2 linked regions of the Homo sapiens genome follow. Changing the gene in region 1 together with any one later gene gives a genetic interaction. Each region holds a gene or a part of one and is shown on either strand. Other genes may lie near its edges.

What was found. A genetic interaction does not mean that the proteins touch.
Region 2: changes in KEAP1 (region 1) and MED9 together harm fitness more than expected from each alone (negative genetic interaction), as found in Homo sapiens cells (one large-scale study listed by BioGRID).

Annotation. Positions count from the first base shown.
Region 1 is NC_000019.10:10,493,220-10,496,871, reverse strand, and holds part of KEAP1 (kelch-like ECH-associated protein 1), read left to right. Parts: intron 1-3,652. UniProt on the Homo sapiens protein: Substrate-specific adapter of a BCR (BTB-CUL3-RBX1) E3 ubiquitin ligase complex that regulates the response to oxidative stress by targeting NFE2L2/NRF2 for ubiquitination.
Region 2 is NC_000017.11:17,483,379-17,487,030, forward strand, and holds part of MED9 (mediator of RNA polymerase II transcription subunit 9), read left to right. Parts: intron 1-3,652.

The DNA of each region.
Region 1 (3,652 bases):
GTGCTGGGATTACAGGCATGAGACACTGCGCCCACGCCCGCCCCCCACCGCCCAGTCCTTTTTTGTTTTTGAGACTGAGTCTGGCTCTATCGCCCAGGCTGAAGTGCAGTGGCAAGATTTCGGCTCACTGCAAGCCTCCATGTCCTGGGTTCAAGCGATTCTCATGCCTCAGCCTCCGAAGTAGCTGGGATTACAGGGGTGCACCACCACGCTGGCTAATTTTTGTATTTTTAGTAGAGACAGGGTTTCACCATGTTGGCCAGGCTGGTCTGGAACTCCTTACCTCACGTGATCCGCCCACCTCAGCCTCCCAAAGTGTTGGGATTACAGGCTTGAGCCACCACGCCAAGCCCCCTTTTTTTTTTTTTTGGGGGTGGGGGACAGAGTCTCACTCTGTCATCAGGCTGGAGTATAGTGGCATGATCTCGGCTCACTGCAACCTCCGCCTCTCGGGTTCAAGTGATTCTCATTCCTCAGCCTCCCAAGTAGCTGGGATTATAGGCATGTGTCACCATGCCCAGATAATTTTTGTATTTTTTGTAGAGATGGGGTTTCACCATGTTGGTCAGGCTGGTCTTGAACTCCTGACCTCAAGTGATCCGCCCGACTTGGCATCCCAAAGTGCTGGGATTACGTGTGTGAGCCACCGCACCTGGCCTTTTTTTTTTTTTTTTCTTTTTTTAGAGACAGGGTCTCACTCTGTCACCCAGGCTGGACTTCAGTGGCACGATCTCTGCTTATCACAAACTCCAGCTCCTGGGCTCAAGTGATCCTCCCACCTCAGTCTCCTGAGTAGCTGAGACTACAGGCGTGAGCTACCATGCTTGGCTAATTTTTATATCTTTTCTTGGTAGAGATGAGGTCTCGCTATGTTGCCCAGGCTGGTCTTAAACTCCTGGGCTCAAGCAATCTTCCCGCCTTGGTCTCCCAAAGTACCAGGATTACAGGCGTGAGCCACCACACCTGGCTACAAGAAATATTTATCCAGGGCTCTGTATACCCTAGAAGTAGCCTTACTTTGAGGTGGCCATTAATATAATCCCATTTTACAGAGGAGGAAAACCAAGACATGGAGCATTTCAGAGATTTGCCCAAGTTACACACCTACGAAGTGGTCGGATCAAAATTCCAACTCATGCTGGTTTCTTCGGAGCTTCCACTTTTTTTTTTTTTGGAGATGGAGTCTCACTCTGTTGCTCAGGCTGGAGTACAGTGGCACAATCTCAGCTCACTGCAATCTCTGCCTCCTGGATTCAAGCGATTTTCCTGCCTCAGCCTCCTCAGTAACTGGGATTACAGGTGCCCACCACCACAGCTGGCTAATTTTTTTGTTTTTAGTAGAGACGGGGTTTCACCGTGTTGGCCAGGCTGGTCTCGGACTTCTGACCTCAGGTGATCCGCCTGCTTTGGCCTCCCAAAGTGCTGGGATTACAGGTGGGAACCACTGTGCTGGCCCAGAGCTGTCACTTGTTTTTTTCCACAACATTCTATTGTGATTGCTTATTTTTTCCTTTTTTAGTCTATTTGCCATTTTAGAAAATGATTTCATTTTAAAAAACAAGATGGGTGAGTTGGCTCGTGCGTATAATCTCAGTGCTTTGGGAGGCTGAGGCAGGAGAATCACATGAGCCCAGGAATTTGAGGTTACAGTGGCACCTCTGCACTCCACCATAGGTGACAGAGCAAGACCCTGTCTCTTAAAAAATAAACTCAGACATCCCATCTCTACTAAAAATACAAAAATTAGCCGGGTGTGGTTGTGCGTGCCTGTAGTCCCAGCTACTCAGGAGGCTGAGGCTGAGGCAGAAGAATCATTTGAACCCGGAGACAGAGGTTGCAGTGAGCCGAGATCACGCCACTGTATCCAGCCTGACGACAGAGTGAGACTCTGTCTCAAAAAAAAAAAAGAAACAAAAGAGGCCGGGCGCGTTGGCTCACGCCTGTAATCCCAGCACTTTGGGAGGCTGAGGCAGGCGGATCACGAGGTCAGGAGATCGAGACCATCCTAGCTAACATGGTGAAACCCCGTCTCTACTAAAAATACAAAAAATTAGCTGGATATGGTGGTGGGCACCTGTAGTCCCAGCTACTCGGAGGCTGAGGCAGGAGAATCGCATGAACCTGGATGGCAGAGCTTGCAGTGAGGCAAGATCGTGCCACTGCACTCCAGCCTGGGCGACAGAGCGAGACTCCATCTCAAAAAAAAAAAAAAAAGAAACAAACAGAAAACTCAGAGGCCAGGCGCGGTGGCTCAGGCCTGTAATCCCAGCACTTTGGGAGGCCGAGGCAGGCAGATCACCTGAGGTCAGGAGTTCAAGACCAGCCTGGTTAACACGGTGAAATCCCGTCTCTACTAAAAATACAAAAACAAAAATTAGCCGGGTGTGGTGGTGGGCGCCTGTAGTCCCAGCTACTCGGGAGGCTGAGGCAGGAGAATGGCGTGAACCCGGGAGGTGGAGCTTGCAGTGAGCCGAGATTGCACCCCTGCACTCCAGCCTGGGCGACAGAGCGAGACTCCATCTCAAAAAAAAAAAAAAAAAAAAAGCCAAGCCAGGTATGGTGATGCACACCTGTAATCCTCAGGAGGCTGAAGTAGGAGAATCATTTGAGCTCAAGAGTTTAAGACCAACGGCCGGACACGGTGGCTCATGCCTGTAATCCCAGCACTTTGGAAGGCAAGGGGGTGGGCCACTTGAGGTCAGGAGTTCCAGACCAACCTGGCCAACATGGTGAAACCCCGTCTCTACCATAAAAATATGAAAATTAGCTGTGCGTGGTGGCACACACCTGTAGTCCCAGCGACTCAGGAGGCTGAGGTGGGAAGATCGTTTGAGCCCAGGAGTTCAAGGCTACAGTGAGCTATGATTGTGCCACTGCACTACAGCCTAGGTGACAGAGCAAAACTGTGTCTCAAAAGCAAAAACAGGCCAGGTCCGGTGGCTCACGCCTGTAATCCTAGCACTTAGGGAGGCTGAGATGGGCAGATCACCTAAGGTCAAGAGTTCAAGACTGGCCAGGCGAGGTGGCTCACGCTTGTAATCCCAGCACTTTGGGAGGCCGAGGCGGGCGGATCACGAGGTCAGGAGATCAAGATCATCCTGGCTAACACAGTCACCCCGTCTCTACTAAAAATACAAAAAATATTAGCCAGGCACGGTGGTGGGCCCCTGTAGTCCCAGCTACTCGGGAGGCTGAGGCAGGAGAATGGCGTGAACCCGGGAGGTGGAGCTTGCAGTGAGCCGAGATAGCGCCACTGCAGTCCGGCCTGGGCAAAAGAGCGAGACTCCATCTCAAAAAAAAAAAAAAAAAAAAAAGAGTTTGAGACCAGCCTGGCCAACATGAAGAAATGCCATCTCTACTAAAAATACATAGTGAAACTCCGTCTCTACTAAAAATAAATACAAAAAAATGGCCGGGCGCGGTGGCTCACGCCTGTAATCCCAGCACTTTGGGAGGCTAAGGCGGGTGGATCACAAGGTCAGGAGATCGAGACCATCCTGGCTAACACGGTGAAACCCCATCTCTACTAAAAAAATACAAAAAAACTTAGCTGGGCGTGGTCGCGGGCGCCTGTAGTCCCAGCTAATCGGGAGGCTGAGGCAGGAGAATGGCGTGAACCCAGGAGGCGGAGGTTGCAGCAAGCGGAGATCGC
Region 2 (3,652 bases), on another chromosome or scaffold:
CTTGCTGCAGGTGCTGTTGGGTGGGCGGAGTCCTCCAGGCTGGCAGACCCTCCAGCCCCTCCACTAGAAGTGCCCACAGAAATGCTGCACAGAGCCCTGTGAACCAGAGCCTCTCCTGTACCCCCAGGGACCCACCTGGTTCTGGGAGTGCTCTGGCTGGGACAGCCCTGCTTGGAGTTGGAACCCATAGCACTTTCATCTCTTCTAGTGTCTTTCCCGCAGTTGAATGAAAAATTAAACTACACATTTATGTTATTTTTAAAGAATGAGGAAAGGGAGGCTGGGCACGGTGGCTCACACCTGTAATCCCAGCACTTTGGGAGGCCGAGGCGGGTGGATCACGAGGTCAGGAGATCGAGACCATCCTGGCCAACACGGTGAAACCCTGTCTCTGCTAAAAATACAAAAATTAGCTGGATGTGGTGGTGCACGCCTGTAATCCCAGCTACTAGGGAGGCTGAGGCAGGAGAATCGCTTGAACCCGGGAGGCGGAGGTTGCAGTGAGCCACGATCGCACCATTGCACTCCAGCCTGGCGACAGAGCGAGACTCCATCTCAAAAAAAAAAAAAAGAATGAGGAAAGGGAAAAGAAATCCCATTTTCATGCCTATAAGAAATATTATAAATCCCAACTTTGAGACTTTCTTGATATATATAGATGCTACATTTTAAAAATGCATCATAAAGGAGTAATGAAATGGGGTCTGTTAGATTGGGGAAAATTATTATTTTTTCCTTCAAACTTAACAAATTTGAATCTGAGTTTGGAATGAAGTAGCTCAGCCTAGGCCTTCTGAATTACAGTTGTTGCTGCCTTGCGTGATGGTTTTGGCTCACTTTGTAAGAGTAATCTGTCGACATTGGGTACTTTAAAAACATTTTTTAAATTCAATGTTTTAATTCTTTACAAGGTCTAAGGCTGCTAGGTAGGTAGAGGGGAGCCGTCCTTGCCACCACAGATGGGGCTCAAGTGATGAGCACGCTGTCTGGCCCCTCCAGCTTGGCCTGGCCGCTTCAGCAGGTCAGCAAGACCTCAGAGCCCCAGCCAGACCTCTTTTGTGGGAACAGGGTGTTATTGACTGTCTTCTTCCCACTCAAGTATCTATTTTAATCTGCCCTGGCCTTCCATGCCAGCTGAGACCCGTTCCCGGGTTGTGCAGGAAGCGGCCCCCGCTAAGTGCCCACACTGGCTTCCCGGGGATAGTCCGCATGCAGTTACTGCAGGCCTCTGCCGTTCACTTTCTTCTCCCTCAGCCACACCCCAGGGAGCAGGATGAGCAGCCACAGATAGGGGGTGTTCATAGACTGCTCAGATGAGGTGTTTCCAGTCTGCCTAAAAGCCTCTTCACTCCTCTGCCATGTCATTTCCATCCACTCAGTATGACTTATAACCAGAAGGTGGGCCCCAGCAGAGGCAAGCCCCACGAAGGCAGGCCTTCGCGAGTCAGCACTTCCTTAGTGGGCGTGAGAAATGCCAGGCAAGCATTTACGTGGGTCCTGGGAAGGGTGGGAAGCTTTGCCTAGGAAGGCTGGAAGCACTTGTGGTGGCACTGGGGGGGTCTCCTTCACAGTTTGAATTTGCCTGAAAGGTGTTATCTGTGGGTAGGAGGCCATCTGGAATTATTTTATTTTATTTTTTATTTTTGAAATGGAGTCTCACTCTGTCGCCCAGGCTGGAGTACAGTGGCGTGTCTTGGCTCACTGCAATCTCTGGCTCCCAGGTTCACTTGAATCACTTGATTTCCGTGCCTCAGCCTCCCAAGTAGCTGGGACTACAGGCACACGCCACCATGCCTTTGTAAAAAACAAAACAAAAAAAAATTGTATTTTTAGTAGAGACAGGGTTTCGTCTCTGTCTACAGGCACACGCCACCACGCCTTTGTAAAAATACAAAAAAAAATTTTTTTTTTGTATTTTTAGTAGAGACGGGGCTGGCCTCAAGTGATCTGCTGACTTCAGCCTCCCAAAGTGCTGGGATTACAGGCGTGAGCCACCGGCCGCCATCTGGGATTTTTAAGCAGCATAGTGACCTGCTCAGACTTGGGTTTCTAAAGGTAGGTGGGGCAGAAGTGTTTCAGAAGAGGGGAGGACCTGGGTCCACAGGAAGGCAGTGGCAATGGGAGGTGGCTGGTCTAGAGGAGATGGAGCTGGCAGGATGGTGGCTGGAAGAAGGGGGCACACAGGTGCAAGCCTGGGGGTCCTAGCGTGGCCAGTAGAGTGTGTAGGTGGGACTGCACCCTCCCCCCGTCCCCTGCTGACAGCAAGTCTATGCTGGATATTTGCCATCTGCCAGACTCCAGGCAGGAATGACTTGGTAACTGTGGAGGGAGGAAACTCAAGTACAGGAAGGAAGGCTGACTGGGGAGGTGGTCCCCGTGTCGAGGGTTCGGGAGTGGATGAACACGTTCTGGGCATTTTGTAGTGCAGTGATTTTCATACTCCGTTTAGCAGCAGCACCTTTTGTCACTCTTTGCTAAAAAGAATATTTTTTACATGTAATGCTGTTAGCAGATGAAAGCAAGGGTGTGAGTTCAAGGCCTCCCTCTCCGGAAGGCCTCATAGGTCTTGGCAGAACTGGAGCAGAGAAACACAGTTGATAGGTAAGTAGTAGCCAGTATCATCCAGGGCGGGATGGAGAAGTGTGTCCTCCGTGGCTACAGATAATCTACATCAGTACAGTTTTTTTTTTGGAGGGCATTTTGGTAATATCTGTCAAAAATTTAAATATATATAACCTTTGACCCAGAATCCCTACTTTTAGAAAATGATCTTACCAAAATACTTGCACAAGTGAGAGGTGACAGCGTGCTGGCAGTCCTCAGAGCCCTCACTTGCTCTCGGCACCTCCTCTGCCTGGGCTCCCACTTTGGCAGCACTTGAGGAGCCCTTCAGCCCACCACTGCACTGTGGGAGCCCCTTTCTGGGCTGGCCAAGGCTGGAGCCCACTCTCTCAGCTTGCAGGGAGGTGTGGAGGGAGAGGCGCGAGCGGGAACCAGGGCTGCGTGCGGCGCTTGCGGGCCAGCTGGAGTTCCGGCTGGGCGTGGGCTTGGCAAGCCCCGCACTCGGAGCAGCCGGCCAGCTCTGCTGGCCCCGTGCAATGAGGGACTTAGCACCCGGGCCAGCAGCTGCGGAGGGTGTACTGGGTCCCCCAGCAGTGCCAGCCCACCGGCGCTAAGCTCGATTTCTCGCCAGGCCTTAGCTGCCTTCCCGCGCAGCAGGGCTCGGGACCTGCAGCCCGCCATGCCTGAGCCTCCCACCCACTCCATGGGCTCCTGTGCGGCCCCAGCCTCCCTGACGAGCACCACCCCCTGCTCCAGGGCGCCCAGTCCCATCAGCCACCCAAGGGCTGAGGAAAGCAAGCGTACGTGCAGGACTGGTAGGCAGCTCCACCTGCAGCCCCGGTGCGGGATCCACTAGGTGAAGCCAGCGGGGCTCCTGAGTCTGGTGGGGACGTGGAGAGTCTTTATGTCTAGCTCAGGGATTGTAAATACACCAGTCAGCACCCTGTGTTTAGCTCAAGGTTTGTGAGTGCACCAATCTACACTCTGTATCTAGCTGCTCTGGTGGGGACGTGGAGAACCTTTATGTCTAGCTCAGGGATTGTAAATACACCAATCGGCACTCTGTATCTAGCTCAAGGTTTGTAAACAC